2 separate regions of the Homo sapiens genome follow, and region 2 is linked to region 1. The links come from fine-mapping of genetic effects on gene expression. Tissue or cell type: whole blood. Region 1 holds a variant in brackets; the other region holds the start of a gene. All regions are shown on one strand. Distances are from middle to middle.

Region 1 (2,500 bases):
ATATATATGCACCCAATACAGGAGCACCCAGATTCATAAAGCAAGTCCCGAGTGACCTACAAAGAGACTTAGACTCCCACACAATAATAATGGGAGACTTTAACACCCCACTGTCAACATTAGACAGATCAACGAGACAGAAAGTCAACAAGGATATCCAGGAATTGAACTCAGCTCTGCACCAAGCAGACCTAATAGACATCTACAGAACTCTCCACCCCAAATCAACAGAATATACATTCTTTTCAGCACCACACCACACCTACTCCAAAATTGACCACATAGTTGGAAGTAAAGCACTCCTCAGCAAATGTAAAAGAACAGAAATTATAACAAACTGTCTCTCAGACCACAGTGCAATGAACTAGAACTCAGGATTAAGAAACTCACTCAAAACTGCTCAACTACATGGAAACTGAACAACCTGCTCCTGAATGACTACTGGATACATAACGAAATGAAGGCAGAAATAAAGATGTTCTTTGAAACCAACGAGAACAAAGATACAACATACCAGAATCTCTGGGACACATTCAAAGAAGTGTGTAGAGGGAAATTTATAGCACTAAATGCCCACAAGAGAAAGCAGGAAAGATCTAAAACTGACACCCTAACATCACAATTAAAAGAACTAGAGAAGCAAGAGCAAACACATTCAAAAGCTAGCAGAAGGCAAGAAATAACTAAGATCAGAGCAGAACTGAAGGAAATAGAGACACAAAAAAGCCTTCAAAAAAAATCAATGAATCCAGGAGCTGGTTTTTTGAAAAGATCAACAAAATTGATAGACTGCTAGCAAGACTAATAAAGAAGAAAAGAGAGAAGAATCAAATAGACGCAATAAAAAATGACAAAGGGGATATCACCACCAATCCCACAGAAATGCAAACTACCATCAGAGAATACTATAAACACCTCTACGCAAATAAACTAGAAGATCTAGAAGAAATGGATAAATTCCTCGACACATACACTCTCCCAAGACTAAACCAGGAAGAAGTTGAATTTCTGAATAGACTAATAGCAGGCTCTGAAATTGAGGCAATAATTAATAGCTTCCCAACTAAAAAAAGTCCAGGACCAGATGGATT[C/T]ACAGCTGAATTCTACCAGAGGTACAAGGAGGAGCTGGTACCATTCTTTCTGAAACTATTCCAATCAAGAGAAAAAGAGAGAATCCTCCCTAACTCATTTTATGAGGCCAGCATCATCCTGATACCAAAGCCTGGTAGAGACACAACCAAAAAAGAGAATTTTAGACCAATATCCTTGATGAACATTGATGCAAAAATCCTCAATAAAATACTGGCAAACCGAATCCAGCAACACATCAAAAAGCTTATCCACCATGATCAAGTGGGCTTCATCCCTGGGATGCAAGGCTGGTTCAATATACGAAAATCAATAAACGTAATCCAGCATATAAACAGAACCAAAGACAAAAACCACATGATTATCTCAATAGATGCAGAAAAGGCCTTTGACAAAATTCAACAACCCTTCATGCTAAAAACTCTCAATAAATTAGGTATTGATGGGATGTATCTCAAAATAATAAGAGCTATCTATGACAAACCCACAGCCAATATCATACTGAATGGACAAAAACTGGAAGCATTTCCTTTGAAAACTGGCACAAGACAGGGATGCCCTCTCTCACCACTCCTATTCAACATAGTGTTGGAAGTTCTGGCCAGGGCAATTAGGCAGGAGAAGGAAATAAAGGGCACTCAATTAGGAAAAGAGGAAGTCAAATTTTCCCTGTTTGCAGATGACATGATTGTATATCTAGAAAACCCCATAGTCTCAGCCCAAAATCTCCTTAAGCTGATAAGCAACTTCAGCAAAGTCTCAGGATACAAAATCAATGTGAAAAAATCATAAGCATTCTTATACACCAATAACAGACAAACAGAGAGCCAAATCACGAGTGAACTCCCATTCACAATTGCTTCAAAGAGAATAAAATACCTAGGAATCCAACTTACAAGGGATGTGAAGGACCTCTTCAAGGAGAACTACAAACCACTGCTCAACGAAATAAAAGAGGATACAAACAAATGGAAGAACATTCCATGCTCATGGGTAGGAAGAATCAGTATCATAAAAATGGCCATACTGCCCAAGGTAATTTATAGATTCAATGCCATCCCCATCAAGCTACCAATGACTTTCTTCACAGAACTGGAAAAAAAAAACTACTTTAAAGTTCATAGGGAACCAAAAAAGAGCCCGCATTGCCAAGTCAATCCTAAGCCAAAAGAACAAAGCTGGAGGCATCATGCTACCTGACTTCAAACTACACTACAAGGCTACAGTAACCAAAACAGCATGGTACTGGTACCAAAACAGAGATATAGACCAATGGAACAGAACAGAGCCCTCAGAAATAATGCCACATATCTACAACTACCTGATCTTTGACAAACCTGACAAAAACAAGCAATGGGGAAAGGATTCCCTATTTAATAAATGGTGCTGGGAAAACTGGCTAGCCATATGT
Region 2 (2,612 bases), 86 kb after region 1:
CCTACTGCCTGTAGGGCAGTCTCTGAGATAAGAAGTAGCTGCCGGTGGAACAAATTCCCCCTACCTGAAGAGCGCCGCGGCTGCCAGGCTTGTGATAGTGTATTTCTCAGAGAGCAGATTCTGTGCAGTACTAAACCACTTAGGCAAAATTAAAATCTTTCAGGAATGTCTAAACTCACAAAGCACACATGTGCAAGCTGACGGGCAGACAGCAAATTTCGGGGAAGCGTACAAACTTGGGGGTGTTTTAATGCAACCATTTTCAGCCAAACCCCCGAGGATTCCCGAGTATGTTAAAATGAGCCTCAGGAGAGGAATAACTCATAGAAAGAAGGGGCAAGGGCTCAAGAAGAGATCTTCAGCGAAATAACCAAGGAAGGAAGCGTGGCTGCTGTCTGAACCTCTCCGCCCTGCAGGGGACCAAAGACCGACTCGGGCCAACGCTGCTCTCCAGGGGGCGAGGGCGGGGGGTCGACAGTGACCATTGTGGCCACCAGACCGGACGGACAGTGGCGGCCTCGCCGAAGTAGAGGGCGCGAGTGGGAGAGGAGGCAGAGGCCAGAGCATCCGCCGCGGCAGGGAGGGGACGGGGGGCTCCCGCCCCAGGCCCACCCGGCAGAGGGGCGGCCGGTGGGGCCGAGGCGGCGGCACCCGGGTCACAGCAGGAGGCTGGACTGCTCCTCGCCGGGAAGGAAAGACCCGAGTCGCGCGCACAAAGCTGCCGCCCTCCAGGCAGCGGGCAGGCTGCGCCCAACTTCGGGGCGAGCAGCGCCGGCCGCAGCCCACCCGCCCGCCAGCCGCCCCCAGCGCCCCGCGCCGCCTCGCACCCACCCATGGCGCCTCGCGCGGGAGCCGTTACCCCCAGTGGAGCCGCGGCCCCAGGGACAAAGTCCCGGTCCTGTCCTCGCCGCCGCCTCGCCCCGGCTCCTCCCTGACAAAAAAAAGTTATCCGTTGCCGGACGCCCTGGGGGCCCGGCGTGGGTCTCTCGGCTGGACTCACCAGGGCGGCTGCCGGAGCTCCACCTGCAGGACCTCGACTCGTGAGGCTCTCAGCGACAGCGACGGAGGCTGCTCTGCTTCCTCCCGAGTAGCAGCACCACCTGCTCCCCTTCTTCCTAGCAGAACGGGTCCCGGTGAGCCATCTTCCCCCTCCTCTCACTGACTGACAACCCAGCCGGGAGAGCCACCACTGCCGCCAGCCTCTCTGACAGGCACGACCAGGGACCCGTCCTCAAGCAGCCAACCACCACCGCCCCACGCCAGTTCAGCCTATCGCCGTCCTCCGGGGCGGGATCAGAACAACTTCTCCACCAATGAGAATCTTCTTCTGCTGGGCCTGGGGCGGAGCCATGAGGCGCCTTGAGTGGGCGTGGTCTGAGCAATGGGCGTGATCCGGGCGTCCGAGGGAAGTTGATTGACTGTAAGGTTTGCGGTGGCCGCTAGGCGATGACAATCAGCGAAGGTCTCTTAGATTCTGAGCCGTTAGGGCTTATGGCCTTCTCAGAAAAAAATAAACCTTACCGGATGATGTGAAGGGTATCAATTTGTTTCTCTTTTGTGAGAAAAGAGAAACAAATTGATAATTTACTAGTCAGTAGGATTTACTTCCCTGTAATTAAATTCACAAGAATTTATCAAAATCTTATCAAATCCCGGGAGGAAAAAAAAATTACGTTTTTGCAAAATGGAAATACAAACTTCCCCCTCACTACATCATTGCTTTTGGGCTTAGCCTGGAAAAAGTCAAATACGATGCCTCAGTTTTCTTTCCATGGGGGTTGTTTTTATTTTTTCCATCATTCCTCCCTACTTTTTCTCTGAACATATACTAAATGTTTTGTATAATAACTGGAACCCGAGAACACCTGAACCTGCGCCTGCAGACAGTACTGCTGTTTTTGACCTTGTAAACCTCTCCTACCACATCCTTCTCAAGACTGGTCAGGATTAATTAGAAGAAAAACTGACCTCCACCCTAGAAGACAGGAAGTTCATTCTAGCTTTACACTAGAAATGGGCAGGATTTCTCCAGAAACACTAAGTGAACTTTTCAAACATGCTGAACTCATAAATAACAAGCACATAAATAAGAAGATATATTACTTGATATCAAAAGGGTATCAAGCAAACAATTTCAGGTAATTATTAGGGCAGATTGCTAAAACAGATAGGATCCCCCTCCAAAGGGAGGATCAGATTAATGAGTAAATAATAACAAACTACAGTGATAAGGACAATAGAGATTGGTTCAATGAGCAATGGAAACAGAGGACAAGAAATGACTGTTTAGGAAAGTCAGCGAACTCCACAAGGAAGGTAATGTTTGAGTTGGATCTTAAAAGGTAAATGGGAGTTTGCCAGAGAAGAAAGTCAAAGGGTATTTCAGAAAGGGAGAACACCATGTTCAAAGGCATGGAGCTGTGAAAGGGCACAGAGCCATTGTGGAATGTTGAGAAGGTAGATGGGGTTAAATGATGAGGAACGGCCAAAAATTGGGCTGGAGCAAAAGGTTGAGGTGAGATTGTAAAAGACCTCACAAGCTACACTAAGATATTCAGACAAGCACTGTCCAGCAGAGCTTTCTGCACTGGTGAAAATGTTCTATATTTGTG

What was found. PIP is the estimated chance that this variant, and not a neighbour inherited with it, causes the effect.
Region 2: it holds the start of HYCC1, and the variant in region 1 is fine-mapped to the expression of HYCC1 in whole blood (INTERVAL, PIP above 0.99).

Annotation. Positions count from the first base shown.
Region 1 is chr7:22,926,642-22,929,141 of GRCh38, forward strand. It overlaps a transcript of HYCC1 not described here. Among named protein-coding and RNA genes, the nearest start is that of SNORD93, 71 kb to the left of the region's middle. The variant C/T (reference allele first, on the strand shown) is at 1,092.
Region 2 is chr7:23,012,925-23,015,536 of GRCh38, forward strand. It overlaps HYCC1 (hyccin PI4KA lipid kinase complex subunit 1), which reads right to left and starts at 1,206. Exons shown (of 11, transcript NM_032581.4): 1 at 1,001-1,206. RefSeq lists enhancers at 1-589, 1,007-1,196, 1,357-1,536 and a silencer at 547-816.